2 linked regions of the Homo sapiens genome follow. The protein of the gene in region 1 purifies or fractionates together with the protein of each later gene. This does not show direct contact. Each region holds a gene or a part of one and is shown in the gene's direction. Other genes may lie near its edges.

Evidence for each region.
Region 2: the proteins of LIPF (region 1) and TCN2 purify together in Homo sapiens (affinity purification with mass spectrometry, with the first as the bait; one large-scale study listed by BioGRID). This does not show direct contact.

The regions. Positions count from the first base shown.
Region 1 is NC_000010.11:88,676,764-88,679,353, forward strand, and holds the end of LIPF (gastric triacylglycerol lipase isoform 2 precursor), read left to right. Parts: intron 1-1,681; coding exon 1,682-1,918; 3' UTR 1,919-2,051; downstream 2,052-2,590. UniProt on the Homo sapiens protein: Catalyzes the hydrolysis of triacylglycerols to yield free fatty acids, diacylglycerol, monoacylglycerol, and glycerol. Shows a preferential hydrolysis at the sn-3 position of triacylglycerol.
Region 2 is NC_000022.11:30,605,571-30,609,323, forward strand, and holds the start of TCN2 (transcobalamin-2 isoform 1 precursor), read left to right. Parts: upstream 1-1,603; 5' UTR 1,604-1,761; coding exon 1,762-1,825; intron 1,826-3,753. UniProt on the Homo sapiens protein: Primary vitamin B12-binding and transport protein. Delivers cobalamin to cells.

The DNA.
Region 1 (2,590 bases):
CAATAGGCAGAGGCCTTTGGCATAGGCAGACATATTAAGCAGTCCTCACACTTGCTGTAATAAGAATCCAGACTTTGGAGCTTATCTTATCTGCAGTCAATATGAGTTTGGGCAGTCATTTCTTCATCTCTCCACCCAGGCTCAGGAAGTTGTTGACAGGATTTAGTGCTATAATATCTATAAGCTCTTAGCTCAGGGTAAGCTCTCGGGTTATCACTGACTATTTTTGAACAAGGGAAGCACCCTATAGTATTTTGTAACCTTCTCTTCTTCCTTTTCACCACATCCAATTTTTCCATCCAAGTAGTAGCTGAACAACTCTACTAATTTTCATTTGTTTCCATGACTTAAAATTTAGAAGGAATTTATATGTTTTAACAACAATGTCTTATGTGTAGAGAAGGTGCCCCCCAACCTTGATTTTGCATTTTTGATATCTTTAAAGTTTTCAGAATAGCATGAGATCAAACTTTTGTTGAAAACATTTTTTCCTCCACCATCACTTTCTCAAATCTCCAAAACACACAGGCTTGCTTTGAGTCTCTCTTTCTACTGGACTCTAATACTCATAATCAGAGGACTTCATCTTAGAGGAACAAGAAACCCAGTCCCCAAGTCCACCCTTCTTCCAACTAAACCAATAATATACCAGGTTGGTCTTTAACTAACTGAAGCAATGACACTAATTTAAGAGCCAGGGCCAGCATCTAGAAAACTCTTTGAATAATAGGATGTAAGTAAAATAAGCTGGGTTTATAATTATGAATATTCTCCACACACTCCCTTTTCTCTAATATTTAGGAAATATAATAGAAATCATGAAAATATTAGGGAAAATTACATATCATAAAATATTTTGCTATGGCAAGTTGGCTATTACACAAAATGTGAGAATACAGAAACTTTTAGTATATTGGATTACTATTCTTGAAACTATGATCTAAAAAAATCTAACAAAATTCTCTCTGGGCAGCAAGAAAATTTGAGATAATTCTCTTATTCCTTTTTCTGCTTTGTAAACCTCTTTAAAATCTATGTGTGAATTGTGATTTTCGAGAAACAGGACATGGGGATGATAATACCCTTTCTCAGAATTTGAAGCAACATTTTGTAAATACTCAGGTAAGTATTCAACAATTACAGCTCCATAACTGAAACAACTGACCTATCCCCTGACCATAACTGGGAAGTCAATACAAAGCCAAAATAAATGACTCAGGACATTTTGAGATCATATTTTAGAGTGTTTGGGTAGAAACAACCTATTAACAATTAGAATCTAATCAAATCCATTTCCCTTAGCTTGAGTTGCAATCTATGTTCTTAATTTGTAAGACTTACTGTCCAAAGCCTTGCTATTCAGAGCATGGTTTGGAGCCAATGGCATCAGCATCACCTATGAATGCAGAATCTCAGGCTGTTCCCCAGATCTACTGAAACAGAATTTTTACTTCAACAAGATCTTCAGGTAATTCACAGGCCCATTAGAATTTGACAAGCACTTATCTAAAACATATTGCATTCACTTTGCTCTGTGGATAAAGGTGGTTTTCTCTGTGCAATCATTGCTAGAATTCACTTATAAAACCGCCAGTTAATGTTATACACTCTACTTGAATAGTAAGTACTGGGTTTAAAGTGTGGTTACCTAAACTCTGGTTCTTTCTCTTGTGTTTTCTAGTCCCAACCTCCCTACTACAATGTGACAGCCATGAATGTACCAATTGCAGTGTGGAACGGTGGCAAGGACCTGTTGGCTGACCCCCAAGATGTTGGCCTTTTGCTTCCAAAACTCCCCAATCTTATTTACCACAAGGAGATTCCTTTTTACAATCACTTGGACTTTATCTGGGCAATGGATGCCCCTCAAGAAGTTTACAATGACATTGTTTCTATGATATCAGAAGATAAAAAGTAGTTCTGGATTTAAAGAATTATCCGTTTGTTTTTCCAAAATACTTTATTCTCTCATACATAGTATTTTCATAATGTTTGACATGCAGTGCTTCTTTCTGTAATTTTGACTTTAGAAATATATTGGCATCAACAAACTTCCATTTGTCATTTTGAATTTTTTTAATTTAAAGAAATTTGATTTTTCACCTGGAAATTTATCTAGAAATACTTGAGAGAATATATTTCTGGGGAGGTGAAACTTCTCATTTTCCCATTCAGTTTCTCTTCTGAACTCACTTATATATGAGCTGTGAGCCATAAGTGTTTCTAAAGGACAGTGTTGGCTTCATATTCGCTCTGCTTATGTACACTTGATACTGAGTATATTGCTTTCTATTGTTGATGAAGCTAAGTCTTTCCATCTGTGTAGTGGGGCCTATCACTTGCTATTTTGCATATTTAACCCCATGGAAAGGCCAATTGGGATATAAACTGAATCAACTCACTTTCACTTCCCAGGGAGTGGAGAGCAAGGGTAGTTTGGGAAGCAGCAGATGAAGTCAACCCTGAGTCAGGAATTTGGGAAGAAAAGGGTATGCTCTATTATTATTATTATTATTATTATTATTATTATTATTATTATTGTTCTGCCCTCATGTTTTTGGGTCTTGACCACCAAATAGGCACCAACTAA
Region 2 (3,753 bases), on another chromosome or scaffold:
AGCCAAGGCAGTCCCACCCAGGACCAAGGTGGCTCCATTGCACACACTTCACCATGACTCCCCTGAAGGTCCAAACGTGCGGTTCTGCGGAAGTTGGGCTCCCCACTGGCCTCCCTCCTTCCTCAGAACCTCCAGGGGTGCTCCTCCTAGTGGCCACATCCAGCCTTTCTGACTGGACAACCTATCATTTAAAATTTTCAAGTAGTTCCGTAAACAGACACACGTTGCTGTATTTATTTATGTCAAGGGCTTGGTTTGTGATAAATCAGGCTCAAAAAGATTGTCTTAAAAGAGTGAACCTTGGCAATTTACCATAAAATAATTGCAATGCAGATTGTGCATGGAAATGATTGGAGATATTTTAAGGTCATAGTGTCTTCACAAATTGAGCTGAAAGGGAACTGTTAGGATGATCTTGCCTAACCCTCTCTTCTCACACAGGAAGAACTATTTTAAACTCGAGAGGTTAAGTGACCTGGCCAAAGTCACACAGCCACCACTAGTTAACTCGTATACATTGATTCTCCTGTGGGGCTGGGCAGATGAGGAATCTTTTGTTCTCTTCCCTGTTTGCAGAGATTTTTTTTGAGGTTACTTTCCGAGTTCTGGCAAGTACCCCTGCTTCTGGTAGCTTTGTGTCTCGATTCAATCTCATTCTTTTTATTTTATTTTATTTTTGAGACAGGGTCTCACTTTGTCACCCAAGCTGGAGTGCAGTGGTGTAATCTTGGCTCACTGTAGCCTCCACCTCTTGGGTTCAAGCGATCCTCCTGCCTCAGCCCCCCAAGTAGCTGGGATTACAGACGTCTGCCACCACGCCAGGCTAATTTATGGTTTTTTGTATGTGTTTTTTGTGTTTTTGTAGAGACAGTGTTTCCCCATGTTGCCCAGGCTGGTCTCCAACTCCTGAGCTCAAGTGATCTGCCCGCCTCAGCCTTTCAAAGTGCTAGGATTACAGGTGTGAGCCACCGTGCCCGGACTTAATCCCATTCTTTAACTTGTTTTGTTTTGTCCTCTCCAGGAGGCTCCCAGCCCTTTCGGATTGGTTGAGAAAAGTGGCCTGGCTGGTCTGGGGCCAGCGGCACCCACCCTCCCCTCAATTGCCCAACTCCCCCCCCCCACCGAACTGCCCAACTCCCCCTCCCCAACTGCCCAACTCCCCCACCCCCACAATCCCCTCCCGCCACAACTGAGGGAGGCGGTGCTGAAAAACAGCTGACTCCAGCAATGCTGCTCACGTGACCACTGCAGCTGCAGCTCCCGTTCCACTCCTTGTCCTGGGCTAGGTGGGCACTACCAGGGGCTCCTTTGGTAAGGAGTACCGGGTAGGCACCCGGTCCTGCCAATCCACCACTGGAACAGCTGGGGGGACAGCAGACAGGCACGGTCGGACAGACTTGACAGATCAGGCATCAGGCCCTCTGCGCTGGTCCCGGGCTCTTTAAGCAGGAACGTGAATGGCCTCAAGATGTCTCACATGGTCCCACTAGCCCTCCTCCTCCCTTTGTTCCCTACCTCCAGGAGGGCTGCTCTGCCCTTCCTTCCTCTGTTCTTTGGCCTTATGTTCCCCGCCACCACAGACCTTCCCCCGCCCCACCCCTCTGCAGACTTAGCCGTGCATTGCAGGCATGGAGGATTAATCAGTGACAGGAAGCTGCGTCTCTCGGAGCGGTGACCAGCTGTGGTCAGGAGAGCCTCAGCAGGGCCAGCCCCAGGAGTCTTTCCCGATTCTTGCTCACTGCTCACCCACCTGCTGCTGCCATGAGGCACCTTGGGGCCTTCCTCTTCCTTCTGGGGGTCCTGGGGGCCCTCACTGAGATGTGTGGTGAGTAACTCGCCTCTATCCTGTGCCTCTTTCCTCCTGGGTCCTTAGTGGGGTGGCTAGGGCATAGGATGAGGGAACTTACCTGCCCTTCTAAGCTCCCATAGCAGTTTGGGCTTAGCTGGACCTCAGCATTTAACACATCCTATTGTGATTGATTATATGTTTGACTCCTCACCAGACAAGATCTCCGTTAATTCAGTCATTCGTTCACACATTCATTCAGCGCATACTGAGCCTTTTCTGTGTCAGGCCCAGTGTTAGCCTTTGGGGAACGTGCAAAGCATGAGACAAGTCTAATCCCTGCCATCCTAGAGCTTATGTTCTAGGGAAGGGGGACAGACAAAAGAAATGGTTAGGTGCTCCCACCTGAAATCTCAGCATTTTGGAAGGCTGAGGCGGGAGGGGAGGATCGCTTGAGCTCAACAGTTCAAGGTCAGCCTGGGCAACATAGGGAGACCCCATCTCTACAAAAAATAAAAAAAATTAAAAAATAGCTGGGCATGGGGAAGACTTTCTGAAGACCAAGAGGACACATGGGAGCTGAAACTCGAAGGAAGAAAAGGAGCTGGCAGGAAAGGAGTGGGGGACACACATTCTAGGCAGCAGGAAGTGAGCCTTCGGAGGTCCTGCCTGCTCCAGCTCTGTGCCCCAAGGGGTCTCTTGGAGCACAGTCTCCTGGGACCTGTCTATGAGTCTGAGCTTAGAGGCTCAGGGCTGCTCCTTCAGACAGGAGGCAGAAGGCAGGCTTTGGGAACTTTGGGCCGCCCACGCGCCTTTTCTCCTCCTCTGCACCTAGGATTACGTTGAGCAATACACTTTCACCCCCATGGTCTCTTGAGACCCTGGGGAAACCCTGAGAGGTGGGTGCAGTCATGTCCAGGTGTCAAGTGAAGAAGTCGAGGGTTGGAGGGGCTGAGTGACCCACTCAGGGTGCTCCACCTTTTCCAGAGCTTTGCTGAACTTAGTTTTTAGAACTTGAAGCCTCGTTTGTTTTCGTTTTGTTTTTTGTTGAGAGAGGTTCTCCCTCTGTTGCCCAGGCTGGAGTGCAGTGGCACGATCTTGGCTCACTGCAGCCTCTGCCTTGTGGGTTCAAGTGATTCCCCCACCTCAGCCTCCCAAGTAGCTGGAGACTGCATGTGCATACTACCATGCTTGGCTAATTTTTGTATTTTTTTGTAGAGACAGGGTTTCGCCATGTTGCCCAGGCTGGTCTCGAACTCCTGGGCTCAAGTGAAACTCTTGCGTCGGCCTCCCAAATTGCTGAGATTACAGGCGTGAGCCACCGTGCCCGGCCAGAACTCCAAGCCTCTCATCTGTGTTCCATAAATGCAATCAGACACCTCAGGTCTGGGCCCAGGAACCCCAGCTCTTGGTTCATGTCCGGACAGTCCCCAGGGGAGTTCTGGGTTCAACCAGCAAGAGCTCTTCCTCCTGGCTGATCTGGTCCTCAGCCTTGGACAGTTAGTCCATTAACCTGACCCCACAGGAGCCCCAATCCCTTGGGGTCTGGGGAATCTTGAACTGGGGTTTGGGGTGCAAATATCTGCACTGAGTCACTTAATTGCACCCAGCCTCATTCCTTTATCTGTAAAGTGGGCTAAGAATGCTCCCCTGCCTTCCTCCTCGGTGTAGTACAAGGAAGGATCCCATGACACCTGCTCTCCCAGTTTAAAGCTCTATATGTATGTTGTGAAATTGACAGGGATCGCTGCACAAACGCTAATGCAAAGTGGGCTCCTGTGCTTCCTTTTCTCTTTCTTCTTCTTTTTTTTTTTTTTAATTTTCTTCTAGAGATGAGGTCTCACTATATTGCCCAGGGTTGGTTTCAAACTCCTAGGGTCAAGCGATCCTCCCACCTTGGCCTCCCAAACTGCTGGTATTACAGGCGTGAGCCACTCTGTCTGGCTCCTGTGCTTGTGAATGTCAAC